Linked DNA regions of Homo sapiens. The protein of the gene in region 1 interacts with the protein of each later gene in a biochemical or structural test. Each region holds a gene or a part of one and is shown on either strand. Other genes may lie near its edges.

Evidence for each region.
Region 2: the proteins of GNAI2 (region 1) and RGS4 form a complex in vitro, tested with the Homo sapiens proteins (one study listed by BioGRID).

Annotation. Positions count from the first base shown.
Region 1 is NC_000003.12:50,252,066-50,257,562, reverse strand, and holds part of GNAI2 (guanine nucleotide-binding protein G(i) subunit alpha-2), read right to left. Parts: intron 5,464-5,497; coding exon 5,421-5,463; intron 5,167-5,420; coding exon 5,025-5,166; intron 4,540-5,024; coding exon 4,379-4,539; intron 1,372-4,378; coding exon 1,243-1,371; intron 841-1,242; coding exon 711-840; intron 627-710; coding exon 473-626; intron 64-472; coding exon 1-63. UniProt on the Homo sapiens protein: Guanine nucleotide-binding proteins (G proteins) are involved as modulators or transducers in various transmembrane signaling systems.
Region 2 is NC_000001.11:163,074,832-163,077,302, reverse strand, and holds the end of RGS4 (regulator of G-protein signaling 4), read right to left. Parts: 3' UTR 501-2,471; downstream 1-500. UniProt on the Homo sapiens protein: Inhibits signal transduction by increasing the GTPase activity of G protein alpha subunits thereby driving them into their inactive GDP-bound form. Activity on G(z)-alpha is inhibited by phosphorylation of the G-protein.

The sequences.
Region 1 (5,497 bases):
GCTTATTCAGGTCCTCAAACTTACTCTGGATGTAGCTGGCTGCCTCATCATATTTGTTGGCCCCTGGGGGAGAGAAAATGAAGACTTGTGCTGCATGTGTGGCAGGCAGGCCGCATCCTACGTGTGCAGCAAGGGTCTGTGCGTGTGGACGGCCAGGCATACAACCTGTGCATGCATGTGCATAATATGACAATGTTTGTGGCTGCCCATACATGCCAGATGTGCAAAGGGGTACCCCACTGTGTGAAGGAGGATGCCCATGTACACATGTTCAGGGGTACATGCTTGAGTGTGTTAAGGGCTTCATGTGTGCACACACAACTATACAAGCCTAAGTGAGGCACCAGCCCCTGCCAGTGTTCCAAGGTTACACTTCTGTCCAGTGGGGGGCGCCTGAGGGCCACCTGGTCACCATAGGCTACTTGGGACAAGAAGCAACCCTCTGGAGGCCCTATCCCCACAGTCCCCACACCTGTGTACTCAGGGAAGCAGATGGTCAGGGGACTGTGTGTGATCTTCTCCTCAAACAGGTCCTTCTTGTTGAGGAAGAGGATGATGGACGTGTCTGTGAACCACTTGTTGTTGCAGATGCTATCGAATAGCTTCATGCTCTCATGCATGCGGTTCTGGGGGTAGAATAGCAAGGTCAACGCTAGCCACCACTCCCCAAGCCCGCTGCCCCCACCCGCAGCATTCTCTCATCCTCTCACCATCTCCTCGTCCTCAGCTAGCACCAAGTCATAGGCGCTCAAGGCTACGCAGAAGATGATGGCTGTGACGCCCTCAAAGCAGTGGATCCACTTCTTCCGCTCAGACCGCTGACCACCCACATCAAACATCCTGCAGATATAGATCACCTTAGTTCCAGGAAGGGAGCCTGGGGGAGGCTTTCTACCCCATTTCTCAGGTTGGCTGACTGAGGACAGAGGCCTGCCCAGAGTAGGGCAGCTACCTTCTGGAATCATCCACACTTGCCCACTTCACCCCTGGTTCTGGGCCAGGAGCTTGGACAGCAGGCAGGCTGCAGCCACATCAGGCAGGAGCAGCAGAGGCTGTGAGCAGCTGGCAGAGGTGGCGTGGATCCTGACTGCTGGTTCACTAGGTGGTGAGGATGTGCTTGCCCAGAACACATGAGCCTTGTAAAACCTCAGTGGGGCTGGGGGATCCTGGACCAGCCCCTGCCTCTGCTACCCCAGAGGCTGGCAGGTCCTGCCCCTCCCACCTGTCCACATGCTCGCTCACTTGAAGTGTAGGTCCTTGAAGGTGAAGTGTGTCTCCACGATCCCCGTGGTCTTTACGCGGGTCCGTAGCACATCTTGCTGTGTGGGGATGTAGTCACTCTGTGCAATACGCTCCAGGTCGTTCAGGTAGCTGGGGATGGGGGGTGGGAGGGTCAGTGGGGGCCAGCATGGGGCTTCCTTAGCTGGACCCTGGGCCAGCTGCAAGAGGCCCCTTCCCTCCCATGCCATTTCTCAAGCACAGCCCTTGCTTTTTTTTTTTTTTTTTTTTTTTTTTTTTGAGACAGAGTGTTACTCTGTTGCCAGGCTGGAGTGCAGTGGCATGATCTTGGCTCACTGCAACCTCTGCCTGCCAGGTTCAAGCGATTCTCCTGCCTCAGCCTCCTGAGTAGCTGGGACTACAGGCGCCTGCCGCCCAGCTAATTTTTGTATTTTTAGTAGAGACGGGGTTTCACCATGTTGGCCAGGATGGTCTTGACCTCTCAACCTCAGGTGATCCGCCCACCTCGGCCTCCCAGAGTGCTGGGATTACAGGCGTGAGCCACTGCGCCTGGCCTAGGCACAGCCCTTGTTTCTTTAACCCCTGCCTGCATTACCTCATTGCTCAAATGAAGAAACCTGAACTCAGAGCCCCCGGCCTCCCACCTGTAGAATGGGAATGGGAGGAGGTGCAGCTCTGTGGACAGCTAGCCAGCCAAGCTCCAGCACCCAGGGTCTGAGCCAGACCTGCCTCGGACAGGATCCAGGATGTTGGAGCTATAGGCAAAGAGGGTGGGAGGAGGCAAATTAGTCCTTCGGTGAAGGATTCAGGATGCTAATGGGCGCAATTACGGCATTAGCCGCAGAGCAGCCGGGTGCGGTCCCTCGATGTGGTGCTGGACAGGTTGGGGCCTGCCAGGTCCAGTGGGCTCTTTGCCCAGCGCCCAATGAAATCTGGGTTCCTCAGGGGGAGGGCACAGACACCTGCTTGGCAGGGGTCCCAGGGGCTCCTCATTACCAGTTCCCTTAATTAGTATCAAGGCTACCCCTGCAGGGCCTGCCTCTGCTGCCTGCCTCAATATCCCTGCCATGCCCTGGAGGCTGGTCCCAGGCCTCCAGGCTGCTGCCCAGAGCTGACTTTTCATTCCTGGGGCAAGGCTGCTGGGGCTGGCCCTTGGCTCCCACCAGCACCCAGGCCAAACCAGGCCAGAGGGAAATGATCTCAGAGTAGCAGGGACAAAACAGAAAAACAGGAAGGGCCATGGGGAAGGATGACGCATGTGCTGTGACCCGCATACCATGCCCCGCCCCCTACTGCCAGAGTCCTCAATGTGGAGGTACCATGGTGCATTCCACACCAGCCTCTCCCTTTTCCCCAACAGGTGGGTTCGCCCCAGGGACCCCCTGACTCGCTGCACACTTGGAGGGTTGCTGCGAAGAGGGGCTGAAGGAGCCCTGCTTCCTGTGGTGTTCCAATCCGCAACCCATTCCCAGGGGGAGCTATCAAGGCTTAAACCTGACTGGGAGAACAGGGCCTGTATTCACTCCCAAAACTGTGCTGGGCACACAGTGGGTGCCTAATGTCTGGAGAATAGAGAAAGAGGATGATGGAGAAGCAGGAGGTGGCCTGGAGGTGGCTCTATTCCTGCTTCCTTTGAGTATCATGGGCACCAAGGTCCCTGCTGCTCTGACCCCAAGCTCGCTGGTGGCTGGGCCAGAGATCTCAGGGAGGGGCAGTGGTGAGGCCTGGGGGCCCCCACAGCATTTGGCTGTGACTCCACAGCTCCTGTAGGGGGTACATATTCACAAGAGCATTCAGGCCATGTAAGAAGGGTAGGAGGAGGCTGTTCATGTGGCTTGGACAGGGCTCAGGAATCACAGCCAGGCAAGACCCTCCTCCTCCTCCCACCCACCCTTGCTGAAATCCACCCTATGGGTAGGCTCAGGATTGGATGAACAATAGGAGCAAAAGGGTGTTCCAGTCAGAGGGGACTGGCTTAAGCAGAGATAGGGGAAGGCTAGAGTACAGGGACAGCAGCCTATCTGGTGACACCATCCAAAGCCTGTGGATGTCCCCTGCAGCCATCCTCAATGGCTATTAGCCTGTCTATCCTGTTCCCCGTGGGGTCCTCAGCACCCTGCACCAGTCCAAGTACATGACAGATACCACAGGGAAGGAGTTCAGAACTGTGGAAAGGGTGCAGGCTTGTCATGCCTCTGGGATTCCTGGGACCCCTTGTAATTCCTCAGCCTAGGGCCAGCGAGGGTCACAGCTGAGGTCCAGGGGCTCTGACCTACACACACACCTGTCACCTCCCAGATAACTTCCTCCCCTGTGGCCCCCTCCAGCCAGCCTCCACAGCCTATGTTCAAGCACAGCCAGCTCCCCACCACCCCGAGATGCTGCACATGCTATGCCCCTGCCTGGAATCCCCTCATCCACTCCTCCCCTGGCTGACTCTCCTTCAGAGCTCAGCAATCCTGTCTCTGGGCCAACTCCACCTCTACCTTTTCACTAACACCCTAAATTGTCACTGCATGGGGACTTTGCTCCACTCATCACTGTGTCCTTGAAGCCTGGCACAGAACAGGTGGCAGCAAATGTTCTGAGTCTTGCTCTGTCACCCAAGCTAGAGTGCAGTGGCGCAATCTCCGCTCACTGCAAGCTCCACCTCCCAGGTTCACGCCATTCTCCTGCCTCAGCCTCCTGAGTAGCTGGGACTACAGGCGCCCTCCACCACGCCCGGCTAATTTTTTGTATTTTTAGTAGAGACGGGGTTTCACCGTGTTAGCCAGGATGGTCTCGATCTCCTGATCTCACGACCCGCCTGTCTCAGCCTCCCAAAGTGCTGGGATTACAGGCGTGAGCCACCACGCCCGGCCGCAAATGTTCTTTAGAAGACTGTCAAGACAGATCAGACTCAACTGGCCTGGAAGAGATGTACTGTATAAGCCACCTGCCTGTCATTCCTCCTGGCCTTTCAGTAACGTGACACCCACCCACCCCCCAAACCAAAAAACAGGAAGGCCTTGGTTAACAGTCATCGGTTTCATAAGCAAAGACCAGCAGTGTCCTTCTGGGGGTTCTCAGGCCCTCCGGTCCAGCCTTTAGTCCTCCCCCAGCCCCTGCCCTGCCCTGCCCAGCCCCTCAGAGCACTCACTAGGCAGCTGAGTCGTTGAGCTGGTATTCCCTTGAGCGGCCAAAGCAGGCCTGCACACCATGGTCAGCCCAGAGCCTCCGGATGACGCCGGACAGGTCATCAGGGAGCACGCCTTGCTCCTCGGCGGTGCAGGACAGTGCAAATAGCTGCCTGGCGTCGTCCTGGGCACAGTGGCGGGTGGTCAGGCAGTTGAAGGAATGTACCCCCACTCTGCCAGAGGCAGGGAGACCTCTGGAATGGGGCCCAGGCTAGGGTATTCTTGGATTCCCTAGGATGAGACTTGCCCTAAAACCTTTTTGTTGTTGTTGTTTACTTTTTTCTGTGACGGAGTCTAGCTCTGTCACCAAGGCTAGAGTGCAATGGGGCGATCTTGGCTCACTGCATCCTCTGCCTCCCGGGTTCAAGCAATTCTCCTGCTTCAGCCTCCCAAGTAGCTGGGATTACAGGCACGTGCCACCATGCTCGGCTAATTTTTGTATTTTTAGTAGAGACGCGGTTTCACCAAGTTGGCCAGGCTGGTCCTGACCTCAGGTGATCCACCCGCCTCGGCGTCCCAAAGTGCTGGGATTTATAGGCATGAGCCACCACAACCAGCCACCCCGAAACCTTTTGGGAGGTGGGAGAGGGTGGGGCGGAGGGCACATACCGCTCTGGAGGGGTCGGCAAAGTCGATCTGCAGGTTGCCCATGGCTTTGACAATGGCCATGATGGACTGGATGGTGTTGCTGTAGACAACCGCCCGGTACTGCCGGCATTCCTCCTCGGAGTAGCCATCCTCGTGGATGATCCTGATAGCCAGGGACCAGGAAGGTTAGTGTCCCCTGGGCACTGGGAGTTCCCACGGCTGCCTGGGGCTACTGGGACCTGCTTCAGAGAAGGGAAAACTGCCCCTGACCCACTGGGACCTGAGGGTCCTTCTGCTTCTCAGAAGATTCTGGGCCTGGCTAAGACTGGCTGGGCCTGTAGTCGGGGGCAGTGCAGGCCCAGAGGGTGAAGAGGGGAAGCTGGAGTTTGAGCACTGCCTCTGGAATACAGCACTTACTTCATCTGCTTGACGATGGTGCTCTTCCCTGACTCCCCAGCACCTGGAACAGAGGGCACAGGTGGTCAGGGGGCAGG
Region 2 (2,471 bases), on another chromosome or scaffold:
ATGGGAGTCTCATGACATAATAGACACAGCACAGGGCCTATTACTGAGGATGTGAACATTTTATGACCTCTTTTCCAGGAAAGAGAATTAACAAAAGGGAGGGAAGGATTTTTGAAGTTTGGGTAAGAATCTATAGCTCCTTTCAACTCTCTCAATTTCCCACTGCTCTATCATCTCTCAAACAGGCGGGTAACTGGAAATAAAAGAATGGCTCTGGAAGGTGAACTCTATCCCTTGAAAATTGATTGAGAATCTGCAAGCAAATCACTTAATCTGTTTTGCAGTCTCTGAAGCTAAGATTGCCTTGGTTCTATGAGTAGAGCCAAGCAGAGCAGTGGCATGAACTAAAGAATAAACAATATTCAGTTTGTACTTTCTTTCCCAGAGTTCACTGGCACAGGAGGGATTAAAGACTCAGTATGAGTATTTTTCTAAAGTCACCCTACACCCTGATGTTTCTCATAGCATGTCTCTGGATCATTAATGTGTTTCCAAGCAAATAGTTTCATATGGAGCGTTTATTTACCCTTATTATTAAGATGCGTGTGTTTCACTGGAAGCATTAGCTTTGAGGCCTATCAAGCACATGATAGAAACAGGCATGCAAAAGGAAGGAGTATTCTGTCCAGGGAGCATGAGCAGGCAAGCTCACCATTGGAAATAGTGATGAAATAACAGGGAAATACAACTGAAAAACACACTCAAAAATGTATTACATAAAATAATTTACTTCTCATTCAGCGTGACCTTCCAGACCTATTAGTAAGACAGCAGTCTGTGAGTTCAGATACAATCTGAAAGTCATGACAATTATAATAGGGCAAGACCAATAAAGTTACACATTTGAAGTCAACTAGAGACAAAATTGTGGAACTGTGTATAACAGAAAATGACACTGATGAGGAACTCCAGGGATATTAAGGGCAAGATTGCCAGAGAGACAAGAAGGGTACAATTAGAAAACCTGCATCTTTAATACAGTGAGATTTGTATGCATACACTCTGGTGTCTTCATTTTGCAGCCCATTATATTGGCTTAAAAGCCAGAAAGGTGCTCATGCATGTAATTTATACTGGAGCAACGAATGCAGTGTATGTGGACGCGTGTGTGTGCACTTTGAAAGGCAGTAGTTTTAGAAGAATGAGAAGAAAATTACTTCCTGGGCATTCATTAATAATTCAGGTGATATCCTGTACCTCCATTTATAAAACAATATAATAATAATAACACGTACAAAATAACATCATAAATAACATAAATGAGAAGTTTTCAAGTATTTCAATGTGCCTTGAAAAGTTTCAAACAGTAATTCTCACAATTGGTTAGACAATCATTTTTTTTTTCTTTTCTTTTCCTCTCATTTAGTCTCAGAGCCTAAAAAGAAATGCCTCCAGTCTCTGTTAGCCCCGATGTTTGGAATGAAATTAACAAGATTCTACCTTAAAAGAGAAAACTTATGTGGGCTTTTCAAATTGTGAAAATTTGTTCCCTCTTATAAAATATAATCTTTCCCCTGCTGCTGGTTTATAAATATAGGCATATAGCCCAGAGCCATTATAAAGAAAAAACAACCAACCACAATAAACTAAGGAGCCTCATCTGATGGCTAAGGTTCTCAGGAAAAAATGAGAAGAGCACCTTGATCAGGAAAGGAAAAAAGGATAGAGGATAAAAACAGTAACCTTTAACTTCTATGCCCTCACTCAGCCAGTAACTTACGGCAGGTGTTGCTGGCAAGGCCTTAGCTGTATTTCTTCATTAAGTTGAACATCCTGTCTGCCAACTCCATACCAACCCAGCTGCTAATAAGCATGCCCTGAGCACCCAGGAAAAGAAGGGAAGGCTGGCAGCTTAGGAGCTCAAAAGTGCCATCAGAGAAAACCAGCTCAAGGGAGCTAAGGTATTTGCTCCTTAGAATAGTGCTCAAGGTGGAGGCTGTCAGTGGTCAAATCAAGCATGAAGTTCCTTGGATGCTTCTCCAGCAAGATCCATGGAATTTTACAAAACCAACTTTCCACAGGTTAGCATTTCTTTCTTAGCCTACATGGCAGTTAGTTCATTTTGCCCTGTTCAAATGTAGTATGAAAGAACAGAGATCAAAACACCCATGTAAGTACATACACATACTCTAGTTATGAGCACCTAGGGTCTTTCCCATCACTCTTGCAAAAGTGTGTGTGTGTGTGTGTGTGTGTGTGTATACATACACTCACACATACATATGTATACACAGACATCTATATACAGAAATAATGTATATGTGTGTCTAATGTATATATAATATATACACATAGACATACACACAAGCACATATCATAGCTCAACCTCATCTAAACATCTAGAGTCTGGAGAACGTGCTGGCCAACAGAATACATGTGCATGTGGATGTCATGTGACATGCACTAACCAACCATCCCGAGGTAAAACTGTTGGGAGGAGGAAACTGCCAACAATCTTTGAAAATCCAGAC